Linked DNA regions of Homo sapiens: region 2 is linked to region 1. The links come from fine-mapping of genetic effects on gene expression. A gene starts in region 1. The other region holds a variant in brackets. All regions are shown on one strand. Distances are from middle to middle.

Evidence for each region. PIP is the estimated chance that this variant, and not a neighbour inherited with it, causes the effect.
Region 2: its variant is fine-mapped to the expression of PARP4 in whole blood (INTERVAL, PIP above 0.99).

The regions. Positions count from the first base shown.
Region 1 is chr13:24,511,387-24,514,310 of GRCh38, reverse strand. PARP4 (poly(ADP-ribose) polymerase family member 4) reads left to right here and starts at 1,533. Exons shown (of 34, transcript NM_006437.4): 1 at 1,533-1,605. All of the region lies in intron 1 of LOC105370117 (a long non-coding RNA gene), which reads right to left. RefSeq lists a silencer at 1,376-1,535.
Region 2 is chr13:24,415,380-24,418,303 of GRCh38, reverse strand. No RefSeq gene overlaps it. Among named protein-coding and RNA genes, the nearest start is that of LINC00566, 85 kb to the right of the region's middle. The variant C/AC (reference allele first, on the strand shown) is at 1,339.

The sequences.
Region 1 (2,924 bases):
TTTCTGTTCCTTCATTAATTCACTTACGACAATGGCCTCCAGTTGCAGTCACGTTGCTGTGAAGGACATGATTCCATTCATTCTTTTTATGGCTTCGTAGTATTCCATGGTGCAAATGTACCACATTTTCTTTATCCAGTCCATTGTCGATGAGCACCTAAGTTCATTCCATGTCTTTCCTATTGTGAAGCGTGCTGTGACGAACATACTAGTGCATGTGTCTTTTTGGTAGAATGAGTTCTCTTGTTTTGAATATGTACCCAGTAATGGGATAGCTGGGTTGAATAGCAGTTCTGTTTTCAGCACTTTGAGAAATCTTCAAACTGGTTTCCACAGTGGTTCAACTAATTTACATTCCCACTGACAGTGTATAAGCATTTCCTTTTCAATAAAGCCTTGCCAGCATCTGTTGTTCCTTGACTTTTTAATAATAACCATTCTGACTGGTGTAAGATGGTATCTCATTGCAGTTTTAATTTGCACTTTTCTGATAATTAGTTATGCTGGGCTTTTTTTCATGCTTGTTGACCATTTGCACATCTTCTATTGCATATTCTCTATTTATTGAGACTTTGTTCTCCTGGTTGTTTCTTTCAGTTATTTTTCTATGTTTCCTTTCACTTTTTGTCCATGTTTAAGACAGTTTATTTGAAGTATTTGTCTAATAATTCCTATGTCTGTGCTTCCTCAGCTCAGGGACAATTTCTGTTCATTTCTTTTTTCCTTTGAATTGGCCATTTTTTCGCCTTTTTTTTTGCATGCCTCATAATTTTTTGTTGAAGATTGGACATTTTGAGCATTACGATGTGGTAACTCTAGGAATCAGTCTCTCTCCTCCCCCAGAATCTCTTGTTGTTTCTTAGACAACCCTATAGAGTAGGTTGTAATGATGAAACTTGGTAAATTACCTTGTCCCCAGCCCCCTTGGTAATAAATTGTGGAGTCAGGATTCAACCCCATACCCTTTCCACTGTATTCTCTACTCTATCCTTTCTATTCTCATTTTATTCAGTATCCTAAAAATCTGAATCTTCCCCATTGCTTTATTCCCATTTCAGTGAATCTCAGATCTGTATCTCCAGCCCCCTGCCTCTCTTGAATGGCAGATAAATATATTTCCAACTAGTTACACTGTCACGAATTTCAAACGCAGGAAGGCTTAAAGTAAATTTATTATCTCACTCTCCTGTTTCCACGAACTTTCCCGAAATTTTCTTCTTTCCCGGCCTTGTGAATCCCTTCCATTTCTCAGTTAAAGGACAGCACCATCCACCCACCTCTCTCAAAGCCGAGCTTTGTATTAATCCTCATTGACAAAATCCCTCCTGAAATATGAAACTGAAAGCCCTGAACCCTCCGGCTGATCTTGGAAGAGAAACCCCGCCAGAGGCCGGGGACCCGCTCCCCACCTGGCGGACCCGATTCCGGGCGCGTTCCGGCTATCGTCCCTGCTTGGGACGCTGCGCCCGCCTGGTGCGGGGCGGGGTTCCGGCGCAGTGGCGCCCGCCCAGCCCCGGGGGCAGGGAGAGCCTAGATTACGGAAGTACCGCGAGCAAGGAGCGCGGAATCGGGGAGCGTCCGGAGCTAGCTGGATCCTCTAGGCAGGTGCGTGGGCGCTGCGGGGTGGGGGGCTGCAAAGGTCCCTGTAGTCCTAGCCAGGAAGTGGCCCGCGTACTACTTTCCCGCCAGTGGCTGCACCCTTGCCCTGCGCGGCGTTGGCGCTGTGGGCCTGACGGCGCTGCTAGGCTCGGGAGTGGACTAGCTAGTGCAGCCAGCGCCCTCGGGGAGGGATATTGCGGTCGTTCCGCTCTGCCCCGCGGCGCAGCCCTGGTGACGAGAAACCGGGTGCGGTGGGGGGCGCCCACCGGAGCCGACAGTCACACCAAGTCTCCGCACCCCGTGCGGTGCGGTTCGCAGTAGCACGCGTTGTTTCTTGTTTCCAGTATGCCAAACGGCCTTCTTTCCTAAAGTTAGGTTTCGAATTGTGCAAAAAGTAAGGTGGTTTGGTGAGTAATCAGGAAGTACTATCTGACCTCGTGAGTCATTGGGAACACCGTGATAGAAACAATGTGTTTGTTGAGGTCCAAAGTTGAAAACCTCTAACTCAGTTAAGTAATTCCTGCTAGGAGGGCCGAATGGTTCACCCAGGGATCGAGTTGGTAGATCACAGGTTCTAGAAAACTAAGGCGCTGCTAAATATTCAAGCCCAAGCACTTTCAATTCTGGACTGCTGGATGACAACAATTATATGACAATATCCAAGCATAGTGCTATGATAAAGGGGAAGTTCGCTCTGAGATGTGCGTGTTGCAGACTCATTACATCTGACTTTATCATTTATTAAGTAAACATTAGGTCTTGTTTGTGTGCGTAGAGCTACTGTATATCATGTAGGAGTGAAATAAAAGTAGTACCTTTGTTGTTTAAGGGTTTAATAAACCCATTAGGGAGGTGCATTACTGATGCCATTTGAGTCCAAAATGCAAATAGTGTCAGAAGGCTTTTCTGTAATCCTGGGCTTTAATGGATACGTGAGAGTTTTTAGTAAGCAAGCTTTTATTGAATGCCCACTGTATATCAAAAGTGATCTTAGCGTGTGCTGACTCACACACTTCGGAAGGCGGAGGCTGTAGAATCAAGACTGCCCAGAAAGGGACTCCTCAGGGTTTTCCGAGAGGAGGAAATGCCAGTGGTAAAGACGAAGACCTGTGAAGCAGGAAGCCACTTGATTCCACCTACACCAATGGTTTATGGAGCAGCCAAGAGTTTGTGAGGAGGCGCGCTGAGGGTTTCTTAGGAATCGGGGCTGTTCCCTGCTGTCTTTGGGTGGAAGACACTCTGTGAATGTTATTTGGGGAAGAAGCTGGGAAGGGGGACAGGCTGGAGTGACTGTGCAGATTTGCCTTAGAGAATAACCAGCCCCT
Region 2 (2,924 bases), 96 kb after region 1:
TTGCACTGAGCCAAGATCATGCCATTGCACTCCAGCCTGGGCAACAAGAGTGAAACTCCATCTCAAAAAAAAGAAAAAAGAAAAGAAATTATGTCCTTTGCAGTATCATGGATGCAGCTGGAAGTCATTATCCTGAGAAAATTAATGCAGAAACAAAAAACCAAATACCATATGCTCTCACTCATAAGTGAAAGCTAAACAATGGGTGCTCATGGATATCAAGGTGGCAATAATGGACCCTGGGGAGTTCTAGAGGGGGCACAGCAGAAAAGGGCACAGGTTGAAAAACTAACTATTGGGTCCTGTGCTCAGTACATGGGTGATGCGATCACTCACACCCCAAACCTCAGCATCACACAATATTACCAATAAACCTGCATATGTACTTCCAAATCTAAAAGTTAAATTATACCAAAAATCTAAGCTCAAAAAGAATAAAAGTCTTTTGCCCATTAAAAAACATAATAAAAGAATACGAATCATCCTATATCAGAAATCTATGTTAATGCAATTTATCATATTCATCAATTAAAGAAGACACACCTTACAATTATCTCAATTAGTGTAGGAAAAAGCATTCACTAAAATTCAGCCTGCACCTGTGACTTTAAAAATTAACAACAACTAGGAAACTTCCTTAACTCAACAAAGAGAATCTACCCAAATACCTACCAGGAACATCATATTAATGACATAATATTGACAGCATTTTCTTCAAAGCCTGGAATTAAACAAAAATGTCCTCTCTTCTTTGCTTCCATTTAACAATATACTACAGAGCCTAAACAGTGTAGAAAGTCAGTATAGTAAGTAAGTCTACAGAATAGCTCCTTAATCTAATGAGAGAGTTTAGGAAGATTTCTAGATGCAGGCTCAACATAAACAAAAAATAATAGCTAAGTCAAGGATGCGGTTGAAATCTTTACAGTAATTACTAAAAACAGAAAATGAGTATATGACTTTGAAGGTAATGATAGAGGGTGAGAAGGAAAGAATTACATTATTAAAATTCAATCAAACAAAAGTAGAACATCAGTAGGAATATAGAAGGGTTAAATAAAATAATTAACAAATAGATGTACATAGAACACTGTTCTCAACAATGCATAATACATGTTCTTTTCAAATGTACAGAAAACATTTGACAGTATTGACCATATTCTGGGCCGTAAAGCAAGTCTAAACAAATTTCAAAGAACTAAAAGAAAAAAATACATAGTATGTTCTGTGTCCACAACACAATATAATCAGAAATCAAAAATTTAAAAACAAAATTCTCATATGTTTGGAAATAAGGAAGTATACTTCTACATAACTCATGGGTCAAAAAAAAAAAAA[C/AC]AAGCACAGTCAAAATTGGAAAATAGTTTGAACTAAGTAAAATAAAAACAATACAAATAAAAATTTATGGAATGAAGCTAAAGCAATTCTTAGAGGAAAACTTGTAGCCTTAAATGGTAAATAGAAAAGAGAGTGGTTGACACTCTAAGAATTATCCATGTCAAGAAGTCAGGAAAAGAACAAATTAACCCAAGGACTACAGAAGAAAATACTAAATATCATAGTAATTGATGAAATAAAAAATAGAGACCACCAGTAAGGCCAAAAATTTGGTACTTTTAAAAGACTAGTAAAATTGATAAATCCCTGGTGAGACTAATCAAAAGAAAAAAGGGGAGAAGGCACCAAGAAAGCAATGTCAGGAATAAAAAAGGGAACACCTCTGTAGACATTAAAATGGTAAAATGATATTGTGAACAATTTGATGTCAAGACATTTGCAAAGTTAGATTAAATGGACAAATGCTGGGAAAACTATAATCTACCAAAATTGGCAAAAGAAATAAAATTATAAAAACATTCTATATATGGAATTGAGCCATAATTTAAAGACTTCTCTCCAGAGAAAACTCTAGGCCAATGTGCGTTCACTGGTGAATTTCACTTTACACTTAAGAAGGAAAAAAATCAGCATGCATAAATTTACCCAGAGAAGAAAAATAGAGAAAATGAAATGTAACTCATTTTATGAAGCCAAAATTTGAAAAAACTGTGAGAAAGGAAAATTATAACCACTCTCCCAGATGACATGAATTTGAAAATCCTAAACAAAATATTAACAAACAGAATCTGGCAATTTAATAATAAAATTATTTAATAATTATTTAACAAAATAATAAAGCACAACTAAATTACATTTATTCCAGGAATATGTTGGTTTACCACTTAATCAATGTAATTAACCACATCATCTCAAAGATTCAGAAAAATCTTTAAAAATTCAACATCCACTCATGATTTAAAAAAAAAAAAACTCTTAGCAAACTAATTTCTTTTTTCTTTTTGTTTGTTTTGTTTTTTGAGACAGAGTTTCACTCTGTCATCCACGCTGGAGAGCACTGTGCAATCTTGGCTCACTGCAACCTCTGCCTCCTGGGTTCAAGTGAATCTCATGCCTCAGCTGGAGTAGCTGGGATTACAGGCATGTGCCACCACACCTGGCAAATTTTTGTATTTTTTAGTAGAGACAGGGTTTCACCATGTTGCCCAGGCTGGTCTCGAACTCCTGGCCTCAAGTGATCTGCCCATCCTGGGCCTCTGAAAGTACTGGGATTACAGGTGTAAGCCATGGTGCCCAGCCAAGAAATTTCTTAATCTGATAAATGGTAGCTCACACACACACACACACACACACACACACACACACACTCGTAAAGCAATTGGGGAGATGTTGAAAGCCTTTCCCTGGAGAATGGAACTATATGTTGATGGCTGCTATTGCCACTTCTAATTCTACACTGTACTGAAGGTTCTAGCCAGTGCTAGGGGAGAGAAATGACTGAAATGGAAAAAATACAATTTACTATTTTTATATGATGTAATCATGTACCATAAAATCCAAAAGAATCTATAGATAAATTAGTAGAA